Linked DNA regions of Homo sapiens: all the other regions are linked to region 4. Evidence: fine-mapped expression QTL. A gene starts in region 4. Each other region holds a variant in brackets. All regions are shown on one strand. Distances are between the middles of the regions. Region 1 overlaps CCDC7 (coiled-coil domain containing 7). Region 2 overlaps CCDC7 (coiled-coil domain containing 7). Region 3 overlaps IATPR (ITGB1 adjacent tumor promoting lncRNA). Region 4 holds the start of CCDC7 (coiled-coil domain containing 7). Region 5 overlaps CCDC7 (coiled-coil domain containing 7).

Region 1 (5,109 bases), 220 kb after region 4:
ATGAAAACATGCATTGTAGACACTCAGTGCTAGGAACATGCTTAGATTTAACAATGGTCATTGGATGCAATTTTGCATGTAGGGTCTATGCAAATTTTGGTCACCAACTACTTTGTTTTCTGGTTTATCTTTCCTGTGTTTCAATTTCTAAAAGTAAGTATCTCTTTACATTTATTTCCTAATGGATAGCATACTTGATATCTTTCTTCTATTTCAATTTTTTCTCACTTAACATTACCTTCTATAAATCCCTCTAAATCAGGTTGTAACAATCTTTTTATTACTTTTAGAGCTTCCTGTACAACTCTTTGTATCATATTAAATATTGTAGTTGATAATACCACAAATTATAATATATACCTTTTTATTAACCAATTTCATATGCTTGTACATTTAAGTGATTTTGAGTATTTTGTAATTAAAAGTATGCTGTAATGAATAAACTTGCACATATGAATTTTCATTGCTTTGCCTATGAATATATATTAATCTAAATTATAAATAATTAAGAACAAGTAGAGGCTAATATAAATATTTGATGCCAAGAAATATCAAAATAATGAGACTACTTCACCTCAGATCCTTTAAAGTTCTTGTCACTATTTTCATGTCAGATCTAGAATTATAGTAATTTACTTATATTTTACATGTATAAAAATGAGACAGAATATGGCTGTATACTTGTTATAAATCTGAAATCTAGAAATTTCACTATAGTTTATGTTTAGTGCACTAAATTTATTAATTTGTGTAGCTCATAATGATGTACCAGAAGAAAATCTTATGCTTGAACAAGACACAAAGTCAAAAACGGAAGTAGAAGTAAAGAAACAAAAATCTTTCCAAGATAATCAACTCAGTAGTAAGTGTAATAATTGTAGATAACCTTAAAATAATTTAAGATTTATTTTTAATTGGCAAGTAAAAATTATATACATTCATCATGTACTACATAGTGTTTTAATATATAAATTGTGGAATAATAAATTGTGGAATTTAAATATAAATTGTGGAAAATAAAATCAAGCTATTTAACATGTATATTACCTTGTTATTTTTTTATATTGAGAAGACTTAAAATTTCTCTTAGCAATTTTGCAATATGTTATTATTAACAGTACTCATGAAGTGCAGTAGATCTCTTAAACGTTTCTCATTTCCAGCTGAAATGTGTGTCCTTTGACCAACATTGCTTCAGTCCTCCCACCATCAGCCTCTTATAACCAACATTTTACTCTCTGTTCCTATGAACTTGACTTTTTAAAACTCCTCATATAGGTAAGATAATGCAGTATTTGTTTTTAGTGACTGGCTTACTTTATTTAACATTATGTTCTCCACATTCATCCATATTATCACAAAAGACAAAATTTACTTCCTTTTTTTAAGGGTGATTTTCGTTATCTATTGATCTGTGGCTGGACACTAAGTTTGATTCCGTATCTTGGTTATTGTGAGTAATGTTACAGTGAACATGGGAGTACAAATATCTCTTTTATATACTGATTTCATATCCTTTGGAGGTACATCCAGAGGTGAAATTGTGGATAATATTGTAGTTCTATTTTTAATTTTTTGAGGAATCCCTGTAGTGTTTTCCATTATGGCTTTACTAATTTACATTCCCACCAACAGTGTACAAGTGTTCCCTTCTCTTCACATCTTTGCCAGCACTTCTCTTCCATCTTTTTGATAATAGTTACTTTAGTGTGTGGGAAGTGATATTTCATTGTGGTTTTAATTTGCATGTCCCTGATGATTAGTGATGTTGAACACTTGTTCATATACCTGTTGGCTATTTGCATGTCTTCATTAGAGAAATGTCTATTCAGATCCCATACTCATCTTTTATTTGCGTTGATTGTTTTCTAACTATTGAGTTGTTTGAGCTGCTTCTATAAATTGGATCTTAACTGCTTATCAGATTTATGATTTGGAAATACTTTCTCTCATGCAATAGGCTATTTATTCCTACTGTTGATTGTTTGCTTTGCTGTGCAGAGCTTTTTAGTTTGGTTTAATACCATTTACTTATTTTTGCTTTTATTACCTTGCTTTTGGGGTCATATTAAAAAAATCTTTGCCCAGATCAACATAATTGAGTGTTTCCCATATTTTCTTCTAGCAATTCTAGTTTCAGATCCTAAATTTATGTGTCCTTAATCCAATTTGAGTTGATTTTTGTATATAGTGTGAGATGAAGGTATAATTTTATTCTTCTGCATGTGGATATCTAGTTTTTCAACACCATTGTATATTTTATTCCAGTGATCTACATGTCTGTTTTTGTACCAGTACCATGCTGTCTTGTTTGCTGTAGCTAAATAATATGTTTTAAAATTAGGATGTACAGTGCCTCCAGCTTTGTTTTTCTTGCTCAAGATTGCTTTGGCTATTCAGCGTCTTTTATGGTTACATATGAATTTTTGGATTTTTTCTATTTCTGTCAAAAAATGTTGCTGGGATTTTGATAGGGATTAAATTCATAACTGATGGGCATTTTAACAATATTAATTCTTCCAATCCAGGAACATGGGATATCTTTTTATTTATTTGTGCTTTCTTAAACTTCTTTTACTAATGTTTTATAGTTTTCATTGTAGAACTTTTTTTCCTCCTTGTTTAAATTTATTCCTAGGAACTTAATTTTTTGTAGATATTGTAAATGAGATTACTTTTTGACTTCTTTTTCAGACAGTTCATTGTTAGAGTATAGGAACACTACTAATGTTTGTGTGTTGACTTTCTACCCTGAAAATTTTATGAATTTAATCATTTGGTCTAATAGTTTTTTGGTGGAGTCTTTAGAGTATTCTTTTT[CT/C]TTTTTTTTTTTTTTTCATTGACAAAGAAGTTTCACCGGTGTTATTTAGTCCTTGTGGTAGTCCTTTGGAATAAGCAATGTTATTCCCTTTGATTTACACTGAGACCTAAAGATGATGAAGAGAAGGTAGATTACAAAGATAATAATATAAATAGCTATCATTTACTGAATTACTAATAAATACCAGGTACGGCAGTAGGAAGAACATAATATTTTTCTAACATACACAATAATCCTGCAAGGTTGGACTTAGTATTTCTTTTGTTTTTTTTATACTTTACGTTCTAGGGTACATGTACACAACGTGCAGGTTTGTTACATATATATACATGTGCCGTGTTGGTGTGCTGCACCCATTAACTTGTCATTTACATTAGGTATAACTTCTAATGCTATCGGTCCCCCCTCCCCCCACCCCATGATAGGCCCCAGTGTGTGATGTTCCCCTTCCTGTGTCCAAGTGTTCTCATTGTTCAATTCCTACCTATGAGTGAGAACATGTAGTGTTTGGTTTTTTGTCCTTGCGATAGTTTGCTGAGAATGATGGTTTCCAGCTTCATCCATGTCCTACAAAGGACATGAACTCATCCTTTTTTATGGTTGCGTATTATTCCATGGTGTATATGTGCCACATTTTCTTAATTCAGTCTATCATTGTTGGACATTTGGGTTGGTTCCAAGTCTTTGCTATTGTGAATAGTGCCACAATAAACATACGTGTGCATGTGTCTTTATAGCAGCATGATTTATAATCCTTTGGGTATATACCCAGTAATGGGATGGCTGGGTCAAATGGTATTTCTAGTTCTAGATCCTTGAAGAATTGCCACACTGCCTTCCACAATGGTTGAACTAGTTTACAGTCCCACCAACAGTGTAAAAGCGTTCCTATTTCTCCACATCCTCTCCAGCACCTGTTGTTTCCTGACTTTTTAATGATCACCATTCTAACTGGTGTGAGATGGTATCTCATTGTGGTTTTGATTTGCATTTCTCTGATGGCCAGTGATGATGAGCATTTTGTCATGTGGCTGCATAAATGTCTTCTTTTGAGAAGTGTCTGTTCATATCCTTTGCCCACTTTTTGATAGGTTTGTTTGATTTTTTCTTGTAAATTTGTTTAAGTTCTTTGTAGATTTTGGATATTAGCCCTTTGTCAGATGAGTAGATTGCAAAAATTATCTCCCATTCTGTAGGCTGCCTGTTCACTCTGATGGTAGTTTCTTTTGCTGTGCAGAAACTCTTCAGTTTAATTAGATCCCATTTGTCAATTTTGGCTTTTGTTGCCATTGCTTTTGGTGTTTTAGACATGAAGTCTTTACCCATGCCTATGTCCTGAATGGTATCGCCTAGATTTTCTTCTAGGGTTTTTATGGTTTCAGGTCTAACATTTAAGTCTTTAATCCACGTGAATTAATTTTTGTATAAGGTGTAAGGAAGGGATCCAGTTTCAGCTTTCTACATATGGCTAGCCAGTTTTCCCAGCACCATTTATTAAATAGGGAATCCTTTCCCCATTTCTTGTTTTTCTCAGGTTTGTCAAAGATCAGATGGTTGTAGATGTGTGGTATTATTTCTGAGGGCTCTGTTCTGTCCCATTGGTCCATATCTCTGTTTTGGTACCAGCACCATGCTCTTTTGGTTACTGCAGCCTTGTAGTATAGTTTGAAGTCAGGTAGCGTGATGCCTCCAGCTTTGTTCTTTTGGCTTAGGATTGACTTGGCAATGCAGGCTCTTTTTTGGTTCCATATGAACTTTAAAGTAGTTTTTTCCAATCCTGTGAAGAAAGTCACTGGTAGCTTGATGGGGATGGCATTGAATCTATAAATTACCTTGGGCAGTATGGCCATTTTCACGATATTGATTCTTCCTGCCCATGAGTATGGGATGTTCTTCCATTTGTTTGTATCCTCTTTTATTTCATTGAGCAGTGGTTTGTAGTTCTCCTTGAAGAGGTCCTTCACGTCCCTTGTAAGTTGGATTCCCAGGTGTTTTATTCTCTTTGAAGCAATTGTGAATGGGAGTTCACTCATAATTTGGCTCTCTGTTTGTCTGTTATTGGTGTATAAGAATGCTTGTGATTTTTGCACATTGATTTTGTATCCTGAGACTTTGCTGAAGTTGCCTATCAGCTTAAGGAGATTTTGGGCAGAGATGATGGGGTTTTCTAGATATACAATCATGTCATCTGCAAACAGGAACAATTTGACTTCCTCTTTTCCTAATTGAATACCCTTTATTTCTTTCTCCTGCCTGATTGCCCTGGCCAGAACTTCCAACACTATGTT
Region 2 (5,109 bases), 360 kb after region 4:
AAACCTCTGCCCTTTCCATGATAACAGAGGTCCAATATAATCAACCTGCCACCAAGTAGCTGGCTGATCACCCCGAGGAATGGTGCCATATAGAGGGCTCAGTGTTGGTCTTTGCTGCTGGCAAATTGGACACACAGCAGTGGCCGTAGCCAGATCAGCCTTGGTGAGTGGAAGTCCACATTGCTGAGCCCATGCGTAACCTCCATCCCTGCCACCATGGCCACTTTGTTCATGGGCCCATTGGGCAATGACAGGCGTGGCTGAGGAAAGAGGCTGAGTGGTGTCCACAGAACGGGTCATCCTCTCCACTTGATTATTAAAGTCCTCCTCTGCTGAGGTCACCCGTTGGTGAGCACTCACTTGGGATACAAATATCTTCACAGTTTTTGACCATTCAGAGAGGTCCATCCACATACCTCTTCCCCAAATGTCTTTGTCACCAATTTTTCACTCATGCTTCTTCCAAGACCCTGACCATCCAGGCAAACTATTGGCTACAGCCCATGAATCAGCATATAATTGCACATCTGGCCATTTCTCCTTCCATGCAGAGTGCACAACCAGGTGCACTGCTCAAAGTTCTGCCCACTGGGAAAATTTCTCTTCACTGCTGTCCTTCAGGGATGTCCTAGAAAGGGGCTGTAGTGCTGTAGCTGTCCACTGTTGGGTGGTGCCTGTGTATCATGCAGAATCATCTGTGAACCAGACCCTACTATTCTCTTCCTCTGTCCACTGATCATAGGGAACTCCCCATGGGGCCACTGGTGCAGGCTAGGGGAGAGAAGGCAGGGTGGCAGGAGTGGGGACCATGGGCATTTGAGCCACTTCCTCATGTAACTTACTTGTGCCTTTAGGAGCTGCTCGAGCCCGATCATGTATATACCACTTCCATTTGATGATGGAATGCTGCTGCGTATCACCTACTTTATGGCTAGATGGGTCAGAAAGCACCCAGTTCATGATAAGCAGTTCAGGTTGCATTGTGACTTGATGACCCATAGTCAAATGTTTAGTTTCTACCAAAGCCCAGTAACAGGCCAAGAGCTGACTCTCAAAAGGAGAATGATTATCTGCAGAAGACGGCAGGGCCTTGCTCCAAAATCCGAGAGGGCTCCACTGTGATTCACCTATGGGGGCCTGCCAATGTCTCCAAACAGCATCCCTATCTGCCACTGACACTTCACGCACCATTGGGTATGCTGGGTCATATGACCCAAATGGCAGAGCAGCTTGCATAGCACCCTGGACTTATTGCAGAGCCTTCTCCTGTTCTGGACCCCACTAAAAATTGGCAGCCTTTTGGGTCCCTGGATAAATGGGCCAAAATAACACACCAAAATGAGGAATGTGTTGCCTCCAAAATCCAAATAGGCCCACTAGGTGTTGTGACTCCTTCTTGGTTGTAGGAGGGGCCAAATGCAGCAACTTATCCTTCACCTTTCTAAGGTGATATTCTAAGGAATATCTTGACAGGCCCCACACCACTGGATCCCTAGAAATTTTACTGAGGTAAAAGGTCCCTGAATTTTAGTTGGATTTATTTCCCATCCTCTGGCATGCAAATGTCTCACCAATAAGTCCAGTGTGTTTGCTACTTCTCACTCTCTGGATCCAATCAGCATAATGTCATCAATATAATGGACCAGTGTGATATCTTGTGGAAGGGAAAAGCAAACAAGATCTCTCCAAACAAGATTATGACACAAAGCTGGAGAGTTGATATATCCCTGAGGTAGTACAGTAAAGGTATGTTGCTGGCCTTGCCCACTGAAGGCAAATTGCTTCTGGTGGGCCTTATGGACAGGAATGGAGCAAAAGGCATTTGCCAAGTCAGTGGCCACATACCAGGTATCAGGAGATGTGTTAATTTGCTCAAGCAATGAAACTACATCTGATACAGCAGCTGCAGTTGGAGTAAACCCTTTGTTAAGCTTACGATAATCCACTATCATTCTCCAAGATCCACCTGTCTTCTACACAGGCCAAATGGGAGAGTTGAACAGGGATGTGGTGGGAATCACCACCCCTGCATCTTTCAAGACCTTGATGGTGGCAGTAATCTCTGCAATTTTTGTAAGGATGCGATATTATTTTGATGTATGAT[A/T]TTTCTAGGTAGAGGCAGTTCTAATGGCTTCCATTTGGCCTTTCCCACCATAACAGCCCTCACTTTACCAGTCAGGGAGCCAATGTGGAGGTTCTGCCAGCTACTAAGTATGTCTGTCCCAATTATGCATTCTGGCACTGGGGAAATGACCACAGGGTGAGTCCAAGGACCCACTGGAGCCACTCTATGTTGGATCTGAGCTAAAACTCCATTAATTACCTGACCTCCATAAGCCCCTACCTTAACTGGAGGATCACAATAACATTTTTGAGTCCCCCGGAATCAATGTCAGCTCAGAGCCAGTGACCAGTAGTCCCTGAAAGGTCTGATTATTTCCCTTTCCCCTATGCACAGTTACCCTAGTAAAAGGCTGGAGGTCTCTTTGGGGAAAGATGGAAGAAAGATTAACAGCATAAACTGTTGGTAGTGTAGTGGGATCCTTCCTCAAGGGGATCCAGCCTTTCCTTCAAGTAAAGTGGTTCAAGTTTACAAACTGTAAACTGGTTCAAGTCTGGAAATTGGTTGAGGGTCCATGATTCTGTCTTTATAATTCAAATCAGTCTTTTGTCCACTTGACATGGAATTTTCTGCTTATATAAATTAAGTAAAAATGCAGTGGGCTTCCTAGCAATTTCACTTCTAGAAACACCGTGATTAATTAGCCAATGCCAGAGCTCTACATGAGTCAGACTATTCTGATTGCTACTTTGCCTCTGCTGTCCATTGCAGTAACTATGCCCACCTTGCCTTTGATGGTTGAGTGCCACCGCTTGGCCTCTGCCATCTTGGGATCCAATTATTCCCACTGCATTTAAATTTTATAGCTGAAGTGACTGTGGTTCCCACTGTAAGATCGGCATACAGAGAAGAGCAATCACAGAGCTCTTCAAGGATGCAGGTGCTGCCCACACAAATCTATTTCTCGAAGTATTGGTCAAGATTATGTCTTCTGGACCCTCCCAGCTGGGATGAGTAGGTCTAAAGTGACTAATCCACTCTAGCATCCTGATCTCCTAAGACTTTGGATCTTTTTCTCTACATTAAACCAAGAGAGATCAGGCATTTCCAGCTCGCTCACAGTGGGCCATCTTTTAATCCATATTTCAGCTAACAAAGCCAATAAACTATTAGAATCTTTTTTAACTCCCCAGTCTGCAACATTAAATGCAGAATCCCTGCTTAGTGGGCCTAAATCAATAAATTAAGCCTGTTCCAACTTTGTGTTCCTTCCACCATTATCCTACACCCTTAATATTCATTCTCATGCATGTGCTCCAGATTTCTGCTTAAATAAATTAGAAAACTCAAGCAGTTCTTTTGGAGTGTAGTGCACCTCCATGTGGGTTACACTTTGAACCTCAACTCCAGGGGTCTGCCAGGACTTCAGCCTAATTATAGGTCTAGAAGCAAACAGGGGTGTTGGGAGTGGGTCCTGAGGAAAATCAGCATTGTCTTGCCTGGCACCTGCCCCAAGGGAGGCCATCACTGTTACCTCAGGCAGTGCAGGGTTAATTTCCTCAGCAAATGTGGAAGGGCTGATGGCAGCGTGGGTCATAGATTGGGAAGGGGATGTTGCCACCACTTGGAGTGGGGAGGCTGTTTCCTCCGCCCAAAAAGTCTCATCAGAATTTAGGAGCTCAGTGCCTCCAGCCTCATCAGGGTCCTCCCACATGTCCCCATTTTAAGTTGCATGGTCCCATTCTTTTCCAATCAATGTCCTCACTTTAATAGTGGATACCTGGTGAGGTTGTGCATGCATCTTTTGTTGCAGGTCAGCCACTCACAGGATAAGAGCTTGTGTCTGATTTTCCACAATTTCAGCTTTTTTTCTACAGAAGATAAGACTCTCACTTAGGGCAACCTTAGAAGATTTGAGGCTTAGTATGTGCTTCTAGAGCCGGGAGATAGAATCCCTGACTTCATTTTCTTTTATCACATTGTCTAGTGAACTTAGGAGCAACCAACCAACTTCTTTACATTCCGTAGTTCTTCACATATGGTCAAAGGTATTATGTATAGAGTTACTAAACTCCTTGCATCTCTTGAGCAGTGAATCAGGAGTATCAAATGCATTTATTTTGCATAACTCTCTAAACAGTTCACACCAAGAACTATCAGTGTTCTCCATACTATTAGAAGTAGAATCCTTAGCATTTTTGGGTCTAATCATATTAAGCAGGCAACTCCAGAAACCCCAAAGGCAACTAAATACTCCATCCTTAAAATTCTGTTCCTCTAGAACCACTCCCAGTACCAAAATCTGTATTAGGGTTCTCTTGAGGGCTGGACTAAGAGGATAGATATATAGACAAAAGGGAGTTTATTAAGGAGTATTGACTCACACAATCAAAAGGTGAGGTTCCTCAGTAGGCCATCTGCAAGCTGAGGAGCAAGGAATCCAGTCCTATTTCCAAAACCTCAAAAGTAGGGAAGCTGACAGTGCAGCAGAAGGCCTGAGAGCCCCTGGAAAACTACTGGTGTAGGTCCAAGAGTCCAAAAGCTGAAGAACTTCGAGTCTGGTGTTGAAGGGCAGGAAGCATCCAGCACAGGTGAAAGATGTAGGCTAGGAGACTAAGCCAGTTTAGTCTTTCACATTCTTCTGCCTGCTTTTATTCTGGCCATTCTGGCAGCTGATTAGGTGGTGCCCACCCAGATTGAGAGTGGATCTGCCTCTCCTAGTCCACTGACTCAAATGTTAATTTCCTTTGGCAACACCCTCACAGACACACCCAGGAACAATACTTTGCATCCTTCAATCCAATCACATTGATACCTTGTTTTATTTCATCATAATTTGAGAAGATAACTGATATGATTTTGACTTTTTAATATTTGTTTAGACTTGTTTGTGGCCTGATATGTGATCTTCCATGTGCCAATGAGAAGCATGTGTATTCTGCACTTGATCTTAGCCAAAAGGCGAAGTGATGAGAATGTGTATTCAGTAGTTGTTGGAGGAAATGTTCTGTAAATGTCTGTTAGGTCCATTTGATATATAGCACAGT
Region 3 (5,109 bases), 660 kb after region 4:
TTCATTTAATGGCTGAAACATCAGGTCTTGAAAACTTCAACTGGTCACTTCCTCTAAGCTACTCAGAAAAATATTTCCCTTTTATTAGTGTCCGAACTGTGCATGCATGTATGTGTTACCTCAATGCCCACTATGGTGGTCTGTTTTTAAGCTGGTCCTCTGTGATCCCTGTCTCCAGTATGTATGCCTTGGTATATGGTCCTCTTCACTTGAATGTGGACAAGCCTTAGTTACTATTGTCTACCAGCTAGAATATGGCAAAAATCATGGTATGCCATTTTCAAGATGAAGATATGAAAAGACTGCACCTTCCATTAGGGGTATCTTCTCTCACATTCTGTCTCTTGGAATCCTCATCTGAGGAAAGGCACATCCTATGTTGTAAACAGCCTTATGGGGTGGCCCACATGACAAGGACTTGATGTCTCTAGCCAAAAGACAGTGAAGACTTGAAGCTTGCCAATGGAACGTGAGTGAACCCAGAAGCAGATCCTTCCCGGTTTGAGCCTTCAGATGACAACAGCCCCAGCCAGCACCTGCACTGCAGCCTTGTGAGGTACCCTGAGCTGGAGGACCCAGCTAAGCTGTTCTTGGATTTCTGACCCACAGAAACTGTGAGATCATAAATGCTTGCTGCTTTAAGCTGTTAAATTTGGGCTAATTTATTATACACAATAAATAACAAGTACATCCACTTATAGTGGGTTTGTGAAATAAAATTGAGGCATGTTCATGTGATAGGACATAGGTCAGTCATTAAAATGTGAAATAGAAGAATATTTAATAACATGACAAAATATTCACAATACACTGTTATTTAACAATATCAAATTGTTGTTAAACAACTGGTACTATATGGTACAAGATATATGTGAAAAATACTAAATTTATATTCACCAGCATGGGTTAAATATCGAAAATGGAATTTATGGCTGGAATATTTGTTATTTGACGTACTTTCTACATGTACTTTTAAAAGCATGTGCATGACTTTTAAAAGCAGAGGAGAAAAAACAATGCACTCTTAGACTGCACACAGAGGGCAGACCTTAAGCATGGATCTAGTATAGCCACACTTGAAGATACCAGGACATTTTGAGGGGGATTTTTAACCTACTGAACACAAACTGATAGCTAGCACTGTTCAAGCTCAACTTCAACACTGCAGATGAGTAATTCATTTAAAATAAATATTCATTATTTATTAGGATCCAGGAATGCCTTCTTCCATAGGCGTATTCAGCACATCAGAAATGTCCTTGAAGCACCCATAATTTCAGCCCTTTGGAAGGCTGAGGCAGGTGATCACTGGAGGCCAGGACTTCGTGATCAGCCTGGCCAATATGGTGAAATCCCGTGTCTCCTAAAAATACAAAAATTAGCCAGGTGTAGTGGCACATGCCTGTAATCCCAGCTACTCGGGAGGGTGAGGCAGGAGAATCCCTTGAACCTGGGAGGCGGAGGTTGCAGTGAGCCAAGATCACACCACTGCACTCCAGCCTGGGTAACAAAGTGAGACTCTGTCTCAAAACGAACAAACAAACAGACAAAAAGGAAATGCCCTTAAATCTTTAGTTGCACTGGTTATCCATCCGAGGTTCAGGCACCCTCACTGAAAATGTCATAGAGAGCTTCTGTGGCTCACAAGGAGAGTTGTTAGATCACAGGTAGTCGGTCAGCCAGAACAAGACAAAGCCTGGGAAAATTCAGTGCTTAGGACTTGATTTTTAAATCGCTTTGCCAACTTAATAGAGGCTTAAAATTTTCCATACAATTCCCATACTAGTGATATGGACAGGAGGTGGGGAAATACTGGGTAGAAGAGGGTGGTTCCCCGGCAAAGTCCTCACCCTCAGGCCTGGAAACCGCGGCCCTAAATGAGAACGGTTATCCTTGTTTTTCAGCCCAAATGTTACTTTTTTGGTTCTCCTTGTCCCTTCCCCACCATCTTGTGCCCATATAAATCCCAGACCTCAGCTGTCAGATAGTCAAGCAGCTGAACATGGAGAGGAGAAGGAGCAACTGAGTGTTAGAGACTATGGATAGAGGTGGCTTAACTTCAGAAGGCATGACTCCAGCCGCGCTTCAGGAAAAGATCACCTTCTTTCGGCACCATCATCTTTCCAGCTCCCCTCCGCTAAGAGCCACCTCCATCACTCAGTAAAACCTCTGCATTCACCATCCTTCAAGTCCGTGTGACCTGATTCTTCCTGGATGCTGGACAAGAATCAGGGTACCAAGAGGGCAGGGTGTATGCCACCGTGATTCTCCACTGAGCTGGTTAACACTTAGCCATCCGTGGACGGCAAATACTAAAAGAGAATTGTTTGCAACACATGCCCTCTGGGGCTCCAGAGGTCGGGGGCAACCCCTAGAGGCTGCTGTGGACCAGTACAGGGTTCGTTCCTGCTGGCGCCTAAAGACACTCACCCTGGCTCTTTCACCCGCTCACCTGCATGCTCCTCCTCCCACAAGGGGTTTAAGCTCTGCTGAGCAAAATGAGCCGCCCCCCACCCCACTGTC[G/A]CAGGTCCCACAAGGGGGTCAGGGAACTCTCCCATCTCACTGGTTTCCTCAAAGCAGTAAGACACTAGAACTCACTTTTTCTAGGTGGAGATGAAATCCGTATACTGCAGTTGAATAGCTGCCACAGCAAATAGAAATGACCGCTATGGTTTGTTCCTAATTATGGTTTTAAATTTCTATAGGATCTCTTCACTTTGGGGAGAACTTTTTCACTATTGGCTTTTGGAAATAGACATTATAGTGATTTGGCTCAAACAGAAAAAAAAGGCTTCTTTCTGAAAAATCTAGAATTTTCATCAGTTTTGCATTCATTCTAATTAAACGTAGGTGTAATATTAAAGTGAAGTAACCTCATCCTCATTTCTTAGGAAAAACATCAACCAAAACCGTATTTTTCATGTTTCATTTCAGTTTCTCTAAAGTATCAGTGCACTGTCCATCATAAGCAATTGAAAGAGTTTGTGCTAGTAACTGCTTTGCAGGATATCAGAGTGAGTTCAGACAGCCTGAGTTTGTTCCCCATCCCACCATTCAGTGACTCTGTGACTTTCAATTCCTCAGTTTCCCTTATCTGTATCACAAGCACTTGCTTCACAGAACGTTAGGAGGGTGAATTTAGCGAATGTTGTTAGAACCATGTCAGCTATGAAGCATGTGCTCAGTAGATATACTCATTACTCTGGAGACTGATCAATATAGTCTCAGTAGAACTCTTTCTGAAGACAGACTTGGTTTCAATGAACAATTTAATCAATGGGAAATATTTTGTAGAAATAGAGAATTTAACAAACTCTTGGATTATCCAATGCTGCATGATAAATTGATGGAGTCAGAAGACAAAGTGCAATGCAGGCTTACTGGGTAAAGCCCAAATTCCTCAATCTTTTGGAAATGAGAAGAAGGACGCTTAAAGCTCATTATTGTCATGGATCTGGGAGGTTTTTACAATTCCCAGGAAGGTTTAGAGGAAGGTTTAGATGGCTATTAATGTAACTGACCCCAGGCGACTCTGACCCAGGAAGTTCACAACAGCCTTCCCAATGAATCAGGTCAAAAGGTCACCTTTTTTTTTTTTTTTTTTTTTTTTCAGAGAACGGGGAAGATGCTAATGTGGGAACTGGTTAGGAGAGCATCTGGACATTGCTATTCTTAATTATTCTGGAAGCAAAGAGCAGAACAGTTGAATCACTTTAATGAGAGTTACAACTTGCTGAGGTTAAACCAGTGTCCGCATCTGGGAACCCATGCAAACTATTCAGGAGGTAAAGAAAGAGACCAGGAAGGTAGATAGAAAAATAGGGAACTCACTTTTTAGGATTTTTTCGAGCCTATTTTGTTAATATCAGTATCTATCCTTCCCTTTGTATTCTTGTGAGTCTTCTTTTCAATTTCTTCTAAGGGACTTGATACAAGCTTGGGTTTGGGACATGTTCTTACTAATGGACCAAAGGATAACATCAATAGCACCAGGTACCTGTTCTACACCACATGCATCATATGTATCATCTCAGTTAATCTTCACAATAATCTTGTAAGGATGAGACTTGAACCTTCATTTGACAGATGAGGAACCTAACGCTCAGAAAGGGTAAGCAATTTGCTTAAAGTTACACAGCTCAGACATGGCAAGTTGAAGTTTAATCACAGGTGCACCGGAGTTCAATGCCTAGACCCTTTCCTCTGCTTGTTCCAGGGTCTCAGAGGAGGAAAGGAGAACAATTTATGTCAGATAAACTTATTTGCCCAAAACATGTGTAGGAATTTACGTCACTGCACTCATTTCTACAGCCTCGTTTGTTCACAAAATGCTCTAATCACAGATAAGTGGGAGCCACCTTTCTGAACAGAGAATCGTTGGAGTAACTTCAAAGCCACCAGAAATGTAGGGGAGTTTGGGATAGAACCTTGAAATAATTTTTGGTTACCAGTAAGCACAACAAATAAAACAGTGAAGTCATTCGTAGGAAGATGTGAGAAAGTGTTTAAAACACAACTTTTGAGAGTTAGAAAGACCTAGAAAGAGTATCACTGGTTCCCTTGGGGATTTCACCAGTCCTTAGCTACAACACAGTCAGTTGTATAGAGCTTTCGGATGTGCGTATATGTACAATTTCGAAAAAGTTCAATTGGTTCAATTGCAGAAAGCTGCCCCAATCTGCACATGGGCCAATTTCCATTTGGTGCTGAAACAGTTTTATAGAAATTGCAATAATGTAGCCCACTCGCTGCATGGACAGAAGCTGCCTATTTCAAGTTAGGTGTTCATTCAATTTTCTTGTCCTTTATTTCTATATTTAGTTTATTCCCTTCCAAAGATGTGTAACGATAAGAAAGAGAGAAGAAGTAAGGAAGGAAGATATTTTCTTTTCTCTATATGTGTGTTTTATCAACACAGCCTCAGCTTGAGATCTCTTGGGAAAAGCATTTCAAGACAGGCAGAATGATGTCCTTCCTGCCACAACATAATTTTCCAGTTGCCAGGGGAAAACTACATATTGTACCCAAAACAACAACCGAGAGAACAGATAATAATCACTCCCTAAGAGCACTTGCTTCAGCTTCTCTCAGAAAAGGCTGCAGAAACGA
Region 4 (5,109 bases):
CGCTAGAAGCTGCCTGGGTTTTCTGTTCTTTGTATCATGACTTGGAACCACCTGTCTTCAGGGAGTAAGCTTAGGAAATAATAGGGATCATCTTAAATTTGTTTCCTGTTATGCAGGGGTCATTATCATTATCTGATAACCGAGGTATAAAAATTCATTGTTTCATATATTTTGTCTGATTCTTTACTTATTCCAGACAGGAGGATAAACCCAGTTGCTGTTACTCCATCTTGGCTGGAAGCAGAACCCTTCACATAAACCCAGTTGCTGTTACTCCATCTTGGCTGGAAGCAGAACCCTTCACATTATCCCTTGAAGGATAATATGTATGGTATGTGTCCATGGCACAAAGTCTATGATTTAATTTAAATTAACTTTCAGGTATGGCACGAGGCAGGGGTCATGGATAATTTTTTTTCTCTCAATGATATCAGCTTTCATTTTCATTGTTGGAAAGATTTTTCTTTCCCCATTGAAGTGCACTGGCACTGTTTAAAATCAATTGACTTTATATATGTGGATATATTTCTTAACCCTCTATTTGTTCCATTTTTGTCTAACTTCGTGTAATATACTATTTTACTATAACTTTATAACTCTTGAAAACCTGTAGTATATGTCATTTAAATATTTGCTTATTTTTTTCAAGATTGTTTTGGCTCTAGCCTTTTTCATTTCCATATAAATTGCAAAATTATTTTCCCAATTTCTAGAAAATAATCTTCTTGGATTTTGATCATAAACGCATTTAATGTGTAGATAAATATTGATAGACATAGACTTAAAAAGTTGACATTTTAGCAATATTGGGTCTTCTAATCCATTAATATGGTACATAATCTCCATTAATTTGGATCTTCTTTAATTTCTCTCAGTAATGTTATATAGTTTTCATTGTAGATGTCTGGAAATTGTATGTTGTCTGGGAATACAGCTTTATTTCTTTCATTGAAATCATTATGCCTTTATTTCTTTTTCTTGCCTTATTGCACTTGTTAAGACCTCCAGTATAATACTGAATAGACATAGTGAGAGCAAATATCCTTGCCTCCTTCCAATCTTAAGGAAAAATCAATTTTTCACTATTGAAAATGATGTTAGCTGGAGATAGTTCACAGATGTCCTTCATCAGATGAAAAAGTTCCTCTCTATTCATAAGTATTGTTTGTTTTCAAAGAATAATCGATTCATGTCACAGACTCAAACCACTGCAAAATTTGATATTACATGCTTAAATTTATTAACTTTTTAAACTTCTTTGCTTTACATTGTCAGCACTGATAACTTTTCTGTGGTTCTTAGCTGTGCTATTAAGGCCACAGATATGAATGGTGAACTTTTGGCTAGACTCATGCTGAGAGTTTTGCTAATGTATGCTAACTTGACAACTTGACCGTTAAGATTTTACCAACAAAATTAGAAATGACTAGATGTAATCTATTTTCAGGGTTCTAGAAAATAACTGAAATTGGCTTTGTCAAATCTAAGGTCTTCTTTAATCTCTCCTGACTTTTAGTTCTATCTTTCCTATCCCTTTCATTTACAACGGTTTTGGGAGATTTGGAATTTAGCAATTCAATTCTTTCTAAACTACTTTCTTAATTTTATTGCCAACTTTAAAAAATAAAAAATTGTTGGTGGAAAGCTTAATAAATCTGATCATTTATATGTACATTTTCTTTGTTACTGACATAAAACACACATACTGAAAAGTGCATAAATAAGCATATGCCTTCATGTTTTTTTTTTTTTTTCTTTTTTAGATGGAGTCTCGCTCTGTTGCCCAGGCTGGAGCGCAATGGCACAATCTCGGCTCACTGCAACCTCCACCTCCTGGGTTCAAGTGATTCTCCTGCCTCAGCCTCCTAAGTAGCTGGGATTACAGGCACCCGCCATCACGCCCGGCTAATTTTTGTATTTTTAGTAGAGATGGGGTTTCACCATGTTGGCCAGGCTAGTCTCGAACTCCTGACCTCGAGTGATGCACTGCCTCAGGCTCCCAAAGTGCTGGGATTACAGGTGCGAGCCACCACGCCCAGCCTGCCTTCATGAATTTTTGAACACACCCAGAAAGAGCAGAAGACAGAACATTTCTGGTACACCAGAAGATGTGTTGTTTTCCCTTTCCAGGCAACCCCAATGGTAACTCCTAGTGGTGTGATGGAGCTAGCCTACACCAGCTCTTGGGAGCTGATAAATTTTCAGGAATCTCTTGTGAGGCATTCAGATTTTACTGGAAAATTAGAAATAATTAGATATAATGAATTTTCAGAGTTTTAGAAAATAGTTGAAATCTACTAAGTCAAATCTAAGGTCTCCTTTAAACCTCCTGGTTTTTAGTTTTAGTTCCATCTTTCCTATTCCTTTCATTTACACACAGGCATTATTAACAGTTAAATTGTATCAATTAATATTTTAAAATATTAAAAACATTTTACTTCGTTCAACTTAAAGACAAAATTAATATATTTCTTGAGGTCAAATTATCTAAAAAACTCTACCTTGTAAAATTGCATCTTAAAGCAGTGCGTGGAAACTGATGGCAAGAAACCACTTAAGTGTCACAACTCTGCTTCAAGTTAATTCCTAGTCCATTTGATTTTGTTTTGCTTTTAAGATCACGAAGCTGGTGTACACTTCCGTGCGAGCTTAGAGTGGTAATGAACTCCACAATACACTGAAAAGAGCTTGAGGAGACAGCAGATGAAGGACTGGGGCTCTGGTTTTGTAGCTGAAGCCCAGGTTCTCAAAGGTCCTACCAGGCCTGTACTTTATTTCTCCTCCGCGGGCCTCTAGGCCAAATGCCTGGATGAATCTGCGCTCAGGGGGCGTCCTGGAATTACACTTGGGAGAGAATAAGAAAGGAGGAGGCCGATGTGCCCATGGACATTATTAACCTTCCGGCAAATCCCCACAGCCGCCAAACTGCGTCTCCTCTTCCGCTCTCGGCGCGCAGCTCACGCTCGCAGCGTCAGCGACGCCGGCGGCGCCAAGGCGTCGTGGCGTCGGGCGCCTGGGACGTGGCTTCAACGGCCCCATCCGGCGCCGGCGGCGGGTGCCCGGCGGTCTTTGCTGCCGCCCGGGGGCGCAGAGGCCGGGCCTTTTCTTTCAGCACAAACGTCAGTTTGTAAAAGGGAGGTGCTGGAGTCTGAGGAGTTTTCAGGCTTCCGTCTCGAAGGAAGTCTGGCAGGCTCGGAATTGTCATCTTCCTCAGGCAAATAGTTTTTCACCTTAGAGCCAGCAAGGCCAAACCGCCCAGTCACCCGACTTCCCACAGTCTCAGCAGGTACACAGGGCGGGGAGCCTCGGGAGCGGCTCCCTTAGCAGGACCTGAGGGTTTCGGGAGAGTCCTGGCTTTGCACTTAGTTTTCCCGCTGCCTGGCTGCCTCCGTGGCGGTTGTGCTGCTTTTTATGCAGGATGTAGGATCGAAGGCAAATCATCCTTTCCCTACGTCCCCTGCCAACCCCTGCCGCTCTCCTCTATTTTGTACACTTTATCATTAAAGGATTTGAAATGAATGTAAGTTAATCCTTGAAGGATGAAACCAGAAAACATTTGTCGTGGTGGCGGAAAGGGACGGATGCACTTGGGCGAAGTAATGCTGACATCCACTTCCTAGCATTGTTAGGAGGGATAAATGAATTAAATATGTAAAGTCCTTAAATATTTGCTTGCTAATACGAGTATTCATTGCGTGTGACTATTTTTGTATTTATGTGAACTTCATCGGAGCATTTGTCAGGTTCTTTTTTTTTGCACCAAGTGAGCGTTGCCTGCCTGCCTGCCTGCCTGCCTCCCTCCCTCCCTCCCTTCCTTCCTTCCCCTCTTCCCTTCCTCCCTCCCTCCCTCCCTCCCTCCCTCCCTCACACTTTTTTGGGGAGAGAGGACACAATGCAATCCATAACAGCATATACACTTGTTCTTTTTTCCATCGAACTTTCCTCTTGACCATGTTTTCTTCTAGTAATACTGTATTTCTTTACTCCCTTTTATAGTAAAATTTCTCTACAGTGCTTATATTCAATTCATTGTTCCTACTTCCTCTCTTTTGAACGGTAAGTCAGATATTTACCTCGATCATTCTACTGAAATTGTTGCCGTTCTTCAGGTTACAAATGACCTACCTCCATGTTGCCAAATCCAGTGTCAGCTTAGTCTTCATTTTACTTGACTCAGCATTTGACGTAGTTCATCACTCGGTCCTTGGTGATATTTTCTTTTCCTTGCTTTCTATGTATATATAACCTTTTGGTTTTACTTATTGGCTCATTGGCCACTCTTCTTACGTCCTGTTTCCTGGTCCTGATGGTTTTGATGGAATTTTTGATGTTTGCTTGGACCTGAAGGTTTTGATGGAGTTTCTTTGGCAATGTAATTTATTCAGAATTCTTTTGAGGCTTTTCAATTTTGTAAATTTAATCTTGGTTTCTGCATCATTTTGCTTGTATCATTAATTTTTACTGAAAGCATCGTGTCACAATCGGCATGAGAAAAATGTAAAAGGGAGCAGGGCGCACAGTGGCTCAGGCGTGTAATCCCAGCACTTTGGGAGGCTGAGGTGGGAGGATCACCTGAGGTCAGAAGTTCGAGACCAGCTTGGCCAACGTGGTGAAACCCTGTCACTATTAAAAATACAAAAATTAGCCGGACGTGGCAGTGGGCACCTGTAATCCCAGCTACTTGGGAGGCTGAGGCAGGAGAATCGCTTGAACCTGGGAGGCAAAGTTTGCAGTGAGCAAGATTGTGCCATTGTACTCCAGCCTGGGCGACAAGAGCGAAACTCTGTCTCAAAAAAACGAAAAATGTAAAAGGGAATATTTTGCAGGGGCTTTGGTTCAAGTTCTATAATGTGTTTATTTACTATTATCATCAGTAATTTCCAAGAGAGCATTGTGTTCTTCCTTCAAATGGATTTTTAGTGACAAGTTATTTTTGCAAAGTCATATTTGATTATGATTTAAAAATTATGCTTGGCAACTATGCATTCAGTTAACTATAGTGTTAACTATAGTGTTTCATCGAAACAAAAAAGCAGTTGTATAATTCTTGGATGAAATAAACATTTTCAGTGCTATTAAGATATTTTCGTTCTATTGTTCACAACCTAG
Region 5 (5,109 bases), 380 kb after region 4:
CAAGACCAATAAAGAAGAAAGGAGAGAAGAATCAAATAGACGCAATAAAAAATGATAAAGGGGATATCACCATTGATCCCACAGAAATAGAAACTACCATCAGAGAATACTATAAACACCTCTACACAAATAAACTAGAAAATCTAGAAGAAATGGATACATTCCTTGACACAAACACCCTCCCAAGACCAAACCAGGAAGAAGTTAAATCTCTGAATAGACCAATAACAGGCTCTGAAATTGAGGCAATAATTAATAGCTTACCAACCAAAAAAAGTCCAGGACCAGATGGATTCATAGCTGAATTCTCCCAGAGGTAAAAGGTGGAGCTGTTATGATTCCTTCTGAAACTATTCCAACCAATAGAAAAAGAGGGAATCCTCCCTAACTCATTTTATGAGGTCAGCATCATCCTGATACCAAAGCCTGACAGAGACACAACAAAAAAAAGAGAATTTTAGACCAATATCCCTCATGAACATCGATGCAAAAATCCTCAATAAAATACTGACAAACTGAATCCAGCAGCACATCAAAAAGCTTATCCACCATGATCAAATGGGCTTCATCCCTGGGATGCAAAGCTGGTTCAAAATATGCAAATCAATAAACGTGATCCAGCATATAAACAGAACCAATGACAAAAACCACATGATTATCTCAATAGATGCAGAAAAGGCCTTTGACAAAATTCAACAACCTTCATGCTAAAAACTCTCAATAAATTAGTTATTGATGGGACATATCTCAAAATAATAAGAGCTATCTATGACAAACCCACAGCCAATATCATACTGAATGGGCAAAAACTGGAAGCATTCCCTTTGAAAACTGGCACAAGACAGGGATGTCCTCTCTCACCACTCCTATTCAACATAGTGTTGGAAGTTCTGACCAGGGCAATCAGGCAGGAGAAGGAAATAAAGGGTATTCAATTAGGAAAAGAGGAAGTCACATTGTCCGTGTTTGGAGATGACATGATTGTATATCTAGAAAACCCCACTGTCTCAGTCCAAAATCTCCTTAAGCTGAGAGGCAACTTCAGCAAAGTCTCCAGATACAAAATCAATGTGCAAAAATCACAAGCATTCTTATACACCAATAACAGACAGAAAGCCAAATCATGAGTGAACTCCCATTCACAATTGCTTCAAAGAGAATAAAATACCTAGGAATCCAACTTACAAGGGACAGGAAGGACCTCTTCAAGGAGCACTACAAACTACTGCTCAGTGAAATAAAAGAGGATACAAACAAATGGAAGAACATTCCATGCTCATGGGTAGGAAGAATCAATAGAATTGTGAAAATGGCCATACTGCCCAAGGTAATTTACAGATTCAATGCCATCCCCATTAAGCTACCAATGACTTTCTTCACAGAATTGGAAAAAACTACTTTAAAGTTCATATGGAACCAAAAAAGAGCCCACATTGCCAAGTCAATCCTAAGCCAAAAGAACAAAGCTGGAGGCATCACGCTACCTGACTTCCAACTATACTACAAGGCTACAGTAACCAAAAGAGCATGGTACTGGTACCAAAACAGAGATATAGACCAATGGAACAGGACATAGCCCTCAGAAATAATGCTGCATATCTACAACTATCTGATCTTTGACAAACTTGACAAAAACAAGAAATGGGGAAAGGATTCCCTATTTAATAAATGGTGCTGAGAAAACTGGCTAGCCATATGTAGAAAGCTGAAACTAGATAGCTTCCTTACACCTTATACAAAAATTAATTCAAGATGGATTAAAGACTTAAATGTTAGACCTAAAACCATAAAAACCCTAGAAGAAAACCTAGGCAATACCATTCAGGACATAGGCATGGGTAAGGACTTCATGTCTAAAACACCAAAAGCAATGGCAACAAAAGCCTAAATTGACAAATGGGATCTAATTAAACTGAAGAGCTTCTGCACAGCAAAGGAAACTACCATCAGAGTGAACAGGCAACCTACAGAATGGGAGAAAATTTTTACAATCTACCCATCTGACAAAGGGCTAATATCCAGAATCTACAATGAACTCAAACAAATTTACAAGAAAAAACAACCCCATCAAAAAGTGGGCGAAGGATATGAACAGACACTTCTCAAAAGAAGACATTTATGCAGCCAACGGACACATGAAAAAATGCTCACCATCACTGGCCACCAGAGAAATGCAAATCAAAACCACAATGAGATACCATCTCACACCAGTTAGAATGGCGATCATTAAAAAGTCAGGAAACAACAGGTGCTGGAGAGGATGTGGAGAAATAGGAACACTTTTACACTGTTGGTGGGACTGTAAACTAGTTCAACCATTGTGGAAGTCAGTGTGGCGATTCTTCAGGGATCTAGAACTAGAA[G/A]TACCATTTGACCCAGCCATCCCATTACTGGGTATATACCCAAAGGATTATAAAACATGCTGCTATAAATACACATGCACGCGTATGTTTATTGCGGCACTATTCACAATAGCAAAGACTTGGAACCAACCCAAATGTCCAACAATGATAGACTGGATTAAGAAAAGTGACACATATACACCATGGAATACTATGCAACCATAAAAAAGGATGAGCTCATGTCCTTTGTAGGGACATGGATGAAGCTGGAAATCATCATTCTCAGCAAACTATCGCAAGGCCAAAAAACCAAACACCACATGTTCTCTCTCATAGGTGGGAATTGAACAATGAGAACACTTGGACACAGGAAGGGGAACATCACACACTGGGGCCTGTTGTGGGGTGGGGGTAGGGGGAGGGATAGCATTAGGAGATATACCTAATGTTAAATGATGAGTTAATGGGTGCAGCACACCAACATGGCACATGTATACATATGTAACAAACCTGCACGTTGTGCACATGTACCCTAAAACTTAAAGTATAACAAAAAAAGAAAAACAAACAAAACAATAAATAAAAGTGCTGAAAAAAAAAAATCTACCAACCAATAATTTTATTGCTAGCAAAACTGCTTTTCAGAAAAGGTGAAATATGAAATTACTAAATAAAAATTGAGAGATTTCATTTCTAGCAGAACTGTTTTCCAAGAAATTCTAAAGAAATTTCTTCAGGCTAAAGCTGACCTCTGACAGTAATTTGAAGCCCCCTAAAAAAGGTATGAGTTAAATGTTATAATTGCAAAAGAGAGTATGTACAAATATATATTCCACCTTCTTTCTTTTCTTAATTTATCTAAAAGACAACTGTATAAAAAATTTATATAATTGTATCATTGGGCATATAACATATCAACATGTAATATATTCATGATAGCATCACAAAGGTGATTGGAGGGAGAAGTGATGTAACACTGTAAGAAAATAACACTGGATGATAAATACAGAGCAAGAATAAAAATAACCAAAAAATGTAAATAAGTGTGTTCATGTAACAAATCCTATAAACATGTACTTGATCTTCTTTCTTTTCTCAGTTTATTTAAAAGGCATAAAGTTATACAAAGAAATAATTATAACAATAATTATTACATTGTCCTTAATATTTACAGGTATAATATGTATAACAGTAGCACAAAAACTGGGGAAAGAGAATAAAGGTATATATAAAGGAGTAATGTTTCTGTATCTCAGTAGAATGTAATTAGTGTAAATGTGAAAAAGATTATAAAGTTGACTGAGGTAATACACATTTCTGTAATAAGCATTGAATTGGACACTTTAAATGGAAAAATAGTATGGTTTAAAAATATACACATTTTTAAAAGCTCAGGAACTCTAAGCAGGATAAGATTTTGTAAAATTTAAAGCAACAGGATAATAATGTAAGGGAGGAAAATTGTGACTTTTACTAGTTGATAAATTTCTCCAGCACATAACTTTGTATTCGTAGTGTTTAACTCTAAAATGCTCTACTCATTGACTCCCTGCTTATCTAAAAATCCTCTGATTTCTTAGTTCAAATGAATCAGCCTTTCTTACTTATATCTGTAAGAGAAAGACAAAAGAGCTGAAATACATCTGTTAATGTTCCTCAGTTTTCTGTTGCATATAGCTATTACTTTTACAAAATGTTGTTATTGAATTATTGAAAACTCGTTTTGTCCAATATGATGCTTTTTTTTTTTTGAGATGGTGTCTTGCTCTGTTGCCCAGGCTGGAGTACAGTGATGCAATCTTGGCTCACCACAACCTCCGCCTCCCAGGTTCAAGCAATTATCCTGCCTCAGCCTCCTAAGTAGCTGGGACTAAGGCGCACGCCACCACGCCCTGCTAATTTTTGTGTTTTTAGTAGAGACAAGGTTTCACTATGTTGGCCAGGCTGGTCTCGAACTTGGGACCTCGAGATCTGCCCACCTCGGCCTCCCAAAGTGCTGGGATTACAGGCATGAGCCACTGCACCTGGCCAATATAATGCATTTTTACAATGATGTGTAATCTGGTTTCTGCCTCTATTTGAATTATATTGGTGGTATATTTGGGCTGCCATGATAATAGTGCAAATTTTAACATTAATAATGGGCTCAGCCAATTTTCCAAAGCAAGACTTCCACTCTGTCGTTCAGGATCATTACAGGTGTCCAACTACCATTACATGCTCTGCTAAAACCAACTTTGACACAAAAAACTTCAGGTTTAATAAACCAGGTTTACCAGTTCTAATTATCTGTTTTTCAATATGAAATTCTCTTTAGTAGATTTTTTAGTTTTTCCATCATTATACCTAGATACTAGTTTCTAAATCCAACAAAATGTATAAATCACATAAAACTCAAATGAAAAGGAATACAATCCTAAGGCTAGTACCACTACAAATATTCCCGTTTTCTTCTTCCCAGCTGTAAAGTCCGCCTGCTAAAAGAACCAGAGAGAAGAGACTTTTTTCACATTACATGCGTTATTTATTATTCTTTTTTATCACTGATGCCTATTTGAATTATAGTTACACCACCTAAAATAGACTATTAAAATATTTCTGGATGAGTCAAGGAACTTCTGTTTTATTATATTTTGTGAGTTGTGATGACCATTGTGTGCAGATAGGTCAACTATGAAAAAAAATTGATGTTCCACCTCACCAGATATACCCCTACAACATATATATGTTCTTAATATATACTTGAAAGTTATGTTATTACCACAAA

What was found. PIP is the estimated chance that this variant, and not a neighbour inherited with it, causes the effect.
Region 1: its variant is fine-mapped to the expression of CCDC7 in whole blood (INTERVAL, PIP above 0.99). The same link has a PIP of 0.9 or more in lymphoblastoid cells.
Region 2: its variant is fine-mapped to the expression of CCDC7 in subcutaneous fat (FUSION, PIP 0.90).
Region 3: its variant is fine-mapped to the expression of CCDC7 in esophagus mucosa (GTEx, PIP 0.99).
Region 5: its variant is fine-mapped to the expression of CCDC7 in whole blood (TOPMed, PIP above 0.99).

Annotation. Positions count from the first base shown.
Region 1 is chr10:32,663,300-32,668,408 of GRCh38, forward strand. CCDC7 (coiled-coil domain containing 7) reads left to right here. Exons shown (of 44, transcript NM_001395015.1): 22 at 755-862. Among named protein-coding and RNA genes, the nearest start is that of CCDC7, 220 kb to the left of the region's middle. The variant CT/C (reference allele first, on the strand shown) is at 2,821.
Region 2 is chr10:32,798,168-32,803,276 of GRCh38, forward strand. All of the region lies in intron 30 of CCDC7 (coiled-coil domain containing 7), which reads left to right. Among named protein-coding and RNA genes, the nearest start is that of SNORA86, 100 kb to the right of the region's middle. The variant A/T (reference allele first, on the strand shown) is at 2,105.
Region 3 is chr10:33,104,587-33,109,695 of GRCh38, forward strand. The region is part of intron 1 of IATPR (ITGB1 adjacent tumor promoting lncRNA); the gene reads right to left. Among named protein-coding and RNA genes, the nearest start is that of IATPR, 9.7 kb to the right of the region's middle. The variant G/A (reference allele first, on the strand shown) is at 2,524.
Region 4 is chr10:32,443,112-32,448,220 of GRCh38, forward strand. It overlaps CCDC7 (coiled-coil domain containing 7), which reads left to right and starts at 3,029. Exons shown (of 44, transcript NM_001395015.1): 1 at 3,029-3,286. It overlaps LOC101929431 (a long non-coding RNA gene), which reads right to left and starts at 2,945. Exons shown (of 3, transcript NR_120660.1): 1 at 2,502-2,945. RefSeq lists an enhancer at 2,580-2,899 and a silencer at 2,970-3,199.
Region 5 is chr10:32,819,068-32,824,176 of GRCh38, forward strand. All of the region lies in intron 32 of CCDC7 (coiled-coil domain containing 7), which reads left to right. Among named protein-coding and RNA genes, the nearest start is that of SNORA86, 80 kb to the right of the region's middle. The variant G/A (reference allele first, on the strand shown) is at 2,364.